Homo sapiens: one gene and its partner. The protein of the gene in region 1 purifies or fractionates together with the protein of each later gene. This does not show direct contact. Each region holds a gene or a part of one and is shown in the gene's direction. Other genes may lie near its edges. The genes, in order: NVL and PNPT1.

The links.
Region 2: the proteins of NVL (region 1) and PNPT1 purify together in Homo sapiens (affinity purification with mass spectrometry; one large-scale study listed by BioGRID and IntAct). This does not show direct contact.

The regions. Positions count from the first base shown.
Region 1 is NC_000001.11:224,302,380-224,306,201, reverse strand, and holds part of NVL (nuclear valosin-containing protein-like), read left to right. Parts: intron 1-1,035; coding exon 1,036-1,168; intron 1,169-1,389; coding exon 1,390-1,466; intron 1,467-2,344; coding exon 2,345-2,479; intron 2,480-3,822. UniProt on the Homo sapiens protein: Participates in the assembly of the telomerase holoenzyme and effecting of telomerase activity via its interaction with TERT. Involved in both early and late stages of the pre-rRNA processing pathways.
Region 2 is NC_000002.12:55,683,700-55,687,521, reverse strand, and holds part of PNPT1 (polyribonucleotide nucleotidyltransferase 1, mitochondrial precursor), read left to right. Parts: intron 1-1,077; coding exon 1,078-1,152; intron 1,153-2,473; coding exon 2,474-2,579; intron 2,580-3,687; coding exon 3,688-3,737; intron 3,738-3,822. UniProt on the Homo sapiens protein: RNA-binding protein implicated in numerous RNA metabolic processes. Catalyzes the phosphorolysis of single-stranded polyribonucleotides processively in the 3'-to-5' direction. Mitochondrial intermembrane factor with RNA-processing exoribonulease activity.

The DNA.
Region 1 (3,822 bases):
ACAGAACACTATAGCCTTGAAACCCTGAGCTCAAGTGGTCCTTCTGCCTCTCAAGTAGCTGGGGCTACAGGTGTGTCCCAGTGTGCTTGGCTGAATTACACTTTGTTATGACTGTCAAAGCAGCTCTGTAGTTATATTTAATTTAGTGAATCATCAGCTGTCAGATGAAGACAACTATATAGAAGACTCAGTGAGAAATAAAAGGCAAATATCAGTGTCCTTAATCAAGGAGCTCACAATTCAGTGAGAAAGACAGAGATAAGTGAATCACTCATACAAGGCAGATTATTCCAACTGATAATAGCTGCAAATGCAGTGTCTTGGGAATGTGAGGACAAGATTAAATCTAACTGAAAGAGGGCCGTGCAGGGCGGCTCACGCCTGTAATCCCAGCACTTTGGGAGGCTGAGGTGGGCAGATCACCTGAGGTCAGGAGTTCGATACCAGCCTGGCCAACATGGCAAAACCCCATCTCTACTGATAATATAAAAATTAGCTGGGCATGGTGGTGGGCTACTTGGGAGGCTGAGGCAGGAGAATTGTTTGAACCTAGGAGGTGGAGGTTGCAGTGAGCTGAGATCGCGCTGTTGCACTCCAGCCTGGGTGACAAGACTGAAACTCTGTCTCAAAACAAAAACAAAAACAAACTCTAACTGAAAGAATCTGGAAAAGAAGCGGCATTCAAATGTTAAGATTTCTTTTTTCTTTTTTTTTTTTTCCCCATATGGGATGCTTCACAAATTTCCATGTCATCCTTGCACAGGGGCCATGCTAATCTTTGTATCATTCCAATTTTAGTATATGTGCTGCCAAGGCCAGCACCAAATGTTAAGATTTAAACTGAGCTTTAAGGGAATGAGGAGAAGGACTTTCACAATAGACAGCATCTTTGAGCAAAGAGATTGGGAATAGTTAACAGAGGTGAAAGTGCTAGGGCAGGAATGAATTTTCTTTACAATGCCCCTCTTTAAAAAGTAAAACAATTATTGGCATAGAATTTTAAGCATGGCATATTTAAATTTATTTTCTTTCCAGGATTCAAAAGATTCTTCTCTTTTGGAGAGTGATATGAAACGGAAAGGCAAGCTAAAGAATAAAGGAAGCAAAAGGAAGAAAGAAGATCTTCAGGAAGTAGATGGAGAAATTGAAGCTGTCCTGCAAAAGAAAGGTAAGGTGTGAGTCTTGTTGGTGGCAGTGGTCATGTTTGCAGTGAGAGAAGCATCATTCTGTCCCAAGCTATTTTGCTTGAGGGACCTTCTATGTGCAGAAATGTTTACCAGGAAATATTTCTATATTTAATGGACCTTTGTTTACTTAAAGACTATTCATTATAATTATGAGTTACTACTGAATCATTAATCTTTTCATCTCCTCATTTTTGTTTACCAGCTAAAGCCAGGGGGTTAGAATTCCAGATCTCCAACGTGAAGTTTGAAGATGTGGGAGGCAATGATATGACATTAAAAGTTAGTGCAAATTCTGAATTTTACCTCAAATGGATATATTACTAATCAGTTATGAGGAAAAAGCCTACCTCTTTGTTTCTAATATGATCTGGGTGTAGAAAAGGAAACTGGGAAGGTTGAGAAGGGCAAACCTGACCTGTACCCTTTAGGGCATTGCAGGAGAAAAGATGCATACTATTTTGAACTTTTCTATTATTTTAATTATAGTATATATAAGATCCATGCTTTATAAGTAATATTGTCTTAGCAATACTAATAGTAATGGTAACTTTATTTTTATTTATTTTTTATTTTATTTTATTTATTTATTTTGAGAAGGAGTGTAGCTCTGTCACCAGGCTGGAGTGCAGTGGCGCGATCTTGGCTCACTGCAACCTCCGCCTCCCAGGTTCAAGAGATTCTTCTGCCTCAGCCACCCGAGTAGTTGGGTTTACAGGCATGTGCCACCACGCCCAGCTAATTTTTGTATTTTTAGTAGAGACAGGGCTTCACCATGTTGGCCAGGATGGTCTTGATCTCCTGACTTCGTGATCTGCCCACCTCAGCCTCCCAAAGTGCTGGGATTACAGGCGTGAGCCACCATGCCTGGCCGTAATGGTAACTTTATTTTTAATGCCTACTCTTTTTCATCTGCCATGCTAGTTAACTTTGCATTACATCCTCAAGGTATATAATGTTACAGCTTAGGAAATAGCTCCTCAGAGAGGTTATTGCTGAAATCACACAGTAGGTACCAGAGCCAGGATTCAAAGTCTGATCTAAGTCTAAGGTGTATATTCTACCTATCTACTCCATTTCACTGCTCCGAAAAATAGGACATTTCATTCTACTTTGATTGTTCTGTCTTGAAAGACATCTTTGTGCTTATCCTCTGCTAGGAGGTCTGCAAGATGCTCATACACATGCGTCACCCGGAGGTGTACCACCACCTGGGCGTCGTGCCCCCTCGTGGAGTTCTCCTTCATGGACCACCAGGCTGTGGGAAGACATTACTTGCACATGCAATTGCTGGGGTGAGGCTTGCTGACATTTGTTTGCTTTTGCTGTTTTTGTTGTTATTATTTGTTTTTGTTTTTTCTCTTTGGTCAACTTAAACCAGACATGGCATTCTTCAGGAAGAGAACATAGTCATTGGAACTGATCCCTTTGTTATCATGCTGGTATTATTTGTGGAATTTATTCATTTAGTTTATTTATTGTTTCTCACGAGCAACTTGAGGGATTTTTTTTTTTAATGTATGTAATTGTTTATATGGCAAGAGTTAGATAAAAAGTAAAATAATACAGTTTTTTTTTTTTTGGAGACAGAGTCTCACTCTGTCACCCAGGCTGGAATGCAGTGTCGTGATCTTGGCTTACTGCAACCTCCGCCTCCCGGGTTCAAGCAATTCTCCTGCCTCAGCCTCCCCAGTAGCTGGGACTACAGGCATACGCCACCACGCCCGGCTGATTTTTTGTATTATAGTAGAGACGGGGTTTCACCCTCTTGCCCAGGCTGGTCTTGAGCTCCTGAGGTCAGGCAGTCCACTTGCCTCAGCCTCCCAAAGTGCTAGGATTACAGGTGTGAGTCATCGCACCCGGCCATAATAATACGGTTTTAAACAAACCTTTTTATTAACACATAGCTTACATTTTAGTTACTTTGCTTTCCCTTTAACCCAATAGTTATTTCAGTTTACTTATTTTTTTGAGACAGAGTTTCACTGTCACCCAGGCTGGAGTGCAATGGTGCAATCATGGCTCACTACAGCCTCAACTTCCCAGGCTCAAGTGGTCCTCCCACCTCAGCCTCCCGAGTAACTGGAAACACAGACACATACCACCACGCCCAGCTTATGTTTTTGTTTTTTTGTAGAGACGAAGCCCACTATGTTGCCTGGCTGGTCTTAAACTCCTGGCCTCAAGCAGTCCTCCTGTCTCAGTCTTCCAAAGTGCTGGGATTACAGGCATGGGCCACTGCACCTGCCCTCCCAGTGGTTCTAAGGAGCAGTAAAATAAGAAAACTAGGGTTATATTATTTTTCATATAGCTAAATTTATTCAAAATTTTTATTTAGAGTCATGTTCTTATACTTTTTAGTTTTAAAATAATTCTTTCTAAAATGGTAATAATAGACACTTACTTTGAGAAATTAAAAGTTAGCAATCTTATTTTAACCCTCTCAGATTTTTCAGAAACTGTAGGGGACAGTAATGTAAAATATCCGAGTAACTTCGATTAGAAAAATAGCATGCTCGCCGGGCGCAGTGGCTCATGCCTGTAATCCCAGCACTTTGGGAGGCCGAGGCATGTGGATCACCTGAGGTCGGGAGTTCAAGACCAGCCTGACCAACATGGAGAAACCCCCATCTCTACT
Region 2 (3,822 bases), on another chromosome or scaffold:
TAAGATAATTTCTACTGCAAGAATCATTCCAGACAACCAGAGTCCAGAGCACTGCATGTATTAAGTGACCTATTTTTTTTTTTGAGGTGGACTCTTGCTCCATCTCCAGGCCGGAGTGCAGTGGTGCGATTTTGGCACACTGCAACCTCTGCCTCCTGGGTTCAAGCGATTCTTTTGCCTCAGCCTCCCGAGTAGCTGGGACTACAGGCGTGCACCACCACACCCAGCTAATTTTTGTATTTTTAGTAGAGACGGGGTTTCACCATGTTGGCCAGGATGGTCTCGATCTCTTTTTTTTTTTTTTTTTTGAGATGGAGTCTCACTCTGTTGCCCAGGCTGGAGTGCAGCGGCGCGATCTCGGTTCACTGCAACCTCCGCCTCCCAGGTTCACGCCATTCTCCTGCCTCAGCCTCCTTAGTAGCTGGGACCACAGGCACCTGCCACCACGCCCAGCTAATTTTTTGTATTTTTAGTAGAGTCGAGGTTTCACCGTGTTAGCCAGGATGGTGTTGATCTCCTGACCTCGTGATCCGCCTGCCTCAGCCTCCCAAAGTGCTGGGATTACAGACGTGAGCCACCGCGCCTGGCCTGGTCTCAATCTCTTGACCTCGTGATCCACCTGCCTTGCCCCCGCAAAGTGCTGCAATTACAAGTGTGAGCGACCGTGCCCAGCCGTATTAAGTGACGTTTAACATCCTTTCCAAACTTGGGCTTCTGTTTTATGCGTTAATAAATTCTGTTGTGCTTTTCTAGAGAAAGTGATTTTGGTATTTTCTTCTATAGTAATAATTGGGGAATTTTTCCTTATGTATAGCCACATAAGAAGTAGAGAATACTATTCAATTCATTGAATATGACTAAATTACCTGTTAATCTTTCCTTATTTTGATTCCATAGCTTTTGAAAAGCTCAGAGATCAAGATTGGACTACTTGTGAATATTTTTTATTTCATAATCGTGTCGTAGAATTAGATATCTTTTCTTGAGTTTAATTGGAGTAAGGATTTATTCAGTTGCTACTTAGATGCTAATATCTGATTTCAAAGGAACTTACCAGCGTTGTTCTTTATGTTTAAGTCAGGTGACACTGCAGTAATGGTCACAGCGGTCAGTAAAACAAAACCTTCCCCTTCCCAGTTTATGCCTTTGGTGGTAAGTATTTGCTGATTTATCTGAACTGTAATATGGTCTGAGTAAAGTGTAGAATGTATAATATTTTTGTCCAGTGTCTAGTGAGTGGAAAATACAAACTTGCACAACAAAGAATTTTTCCTAGTTTTTTGATACTGATTCATTAAAAGAGTATAAACTGCTTCATAAACAAATACTAGGATTAAGCATACTTTAGAATTTGGAACGTCCAGGTGCGTAAGTTGACAAGAAGATTGGAAGTGCATGAGTACTTTGACATTGAATAAGCAATGAATTCATTGCCCTCATAGTTTCCCTTCAGTATGACTCTGCAAGTACAGTCAGCCCTCCATGTCCTTGGGTTTTGCATCCATGGATTCAACCAACCATGGATCGAAAATATTGGGGGAAAAATTGCATCTGTACTGAATATGTACAGACTTTTTTTCTTGTCATTCCCTACGCAATACGGTATAAAAACTATTTATGTAGAATTTACATTGTATTAAGGATTATATGTAATCTAGAGATGATTTAAAGTATATGAGAGGATATACGTAAGTTATAAACAAATACTATGGTGTTTTACATCAAGGATTTGAGCATCCATGGATTTTGATATCTGCAAGAGGTCCTAGAACCAATCCCCCAGGGATACCAAGAGACAACTGTGTATATTTAGTAATGAGCTCATGAGAATTTTATAGCTCCCTTCTATTATGAAAAGGGGTGTACAATTATATTTAACAGAGTTGATACCAAAAAAAAGCAATGTTTGACTTGATCAGAATGAGCATCTGTGGCAAATAGTGAGTCTTCTTCCACTTTTACTGTTGAGTAGAAGACTTTTTTTTTTTTAAGAGACAGGGTCTTGCTCTGTCACCCAGGCTAGAGTTGTTCAGTGGTGTGATCATAGTTCACTGCAGCCTCAAACTCCTGGGCTTAAGCAATCCTCCCACCTCAGCCTTCTGAGTAGCTAGGACTATGGGCACAGGCCATTGTGCCCAACTAATTTTTTTTTTGTTGGGGGTAGAGACAAGGTCTTTCTGTGTTACCCAGGCAGTTCTAAAACCCTGGCCTCAAGTGGTCCTCCTGCTTTGGCCTCCCAAAGTGCTGGGATTACAGGCGTGAGCCACTGCACCTGAACGTTTTTTAAAATCACTTTGCAGAAACATTTCTATCAACTTTCCTCTCCCCAAAAGATACAAAATGCTAAGTAAATAACATTTTCTACTCTGAGTCTAGACTGTGTTGTTAGCAACCTCAGGAGAATTAGCATTCATACAGTATAGTTTGTTTCTGCAAAAAGAATTATATGAACTTTTTTTTATTGCTGCTTCAGGTTGACTACAGACAAAAAGCTGCTGCAGCAGGTAGAATTCCCACAAACTATCTGAGAAGAGAGATTGGTACTTCTGATAAAGAAATTCTAACAAGTCGAATAATAGGTAAGATATTAACATAGAGGCGTTCATCTTCTCTGGTATGCCTATGTTAGCATCTCTTCTCTTGCATCTGTGTTCTACAATAAGTCTTAAGTTTTCCTTCATAGCATTAACACCACCTAAGATTATTCACTCCTTCTCTTCCCTCACTCAAATGTGGGCACTGTGAAAGAAAAAACTTTTATTTCTTCAGGGTTGAATCCCTAGTACCTGTTATACTGCTTAGCACAGAATAGGCATTCAATAAATATTTGTTGACTAAATGAGTAAATCTCTATTGAGCATATGAATTTTTTGGCCCATGCCTCTACTTTGTTGAATCTATTCCTAGTACATTTTTTCATGTTCAGAATAGTAATTCCTAAACATTATGTTCATCAGCTACTGAAATATGTCCATAATCTTTCAAATCTTTAACATCCCTACATATTGTGGGATCATATGTAATTTATAGCTCTTCTACCCAGAAATTGCTTTTTTTTGAGACAGAGTCTTGCTCTGTCACCCAGGCTGGAGTGCAGTGGCACGATCTCGGCTCACTGCAACCTCTACCTCCCGGGTTCAAGTGATTGGGATTACAGGTGCCCACCACCATGCCTGGCTGATTTTTGTATTTTTAGTCAAGATGGGGTTTCTCCATTTTGGTCAGGCTGGTCTTGAACTCCTGACCTCGTGATCCACCCGCCTCAGCCTCCCAAGTGCTGGGATTGCAGGCGTGAACCACTGTGCTCGGCCAGAAATTGCTATTTTATGTATATTTATATACAGTCTTCAGACACAAAGTAGCAAGGAAGCATTTTCTTTTGGTCTGCTATTGGTCTTAAGTCTCTTTGCTCTGCTTATATATGTAACTGTTGCCTGTGGAACCAGAATGAAAAATTGCTCCCCAATCTTTATTGTTAATGTGCTTCTTCTGTGTTTGTTTTTTGTTGTTAGGGCATGGTATGTAATAATGGAAGCACTGACATTTATCTGTGTCCCTCTTAGTAAATCAGTCCAAGGGGATTTTTCTTGAAAACATATTGAATGGCTATCTATATTAGTTCAAACGTTTTGAACTGTAAAGCAACTCTGTCAGTACGGTTTAATGTGTTTTTTTTTCTTTTGGCAGATCGTTCAATTAGACCGCTCTTTCCAGCTGGCTACTTCTATGATACACAGGTAGATTCTGCTTTAGGTTTTTTAGTTGCCAGATCAATCAAAAATTACTTAATGAATCTCTGTAATATTTCCTAGAGTAAACATT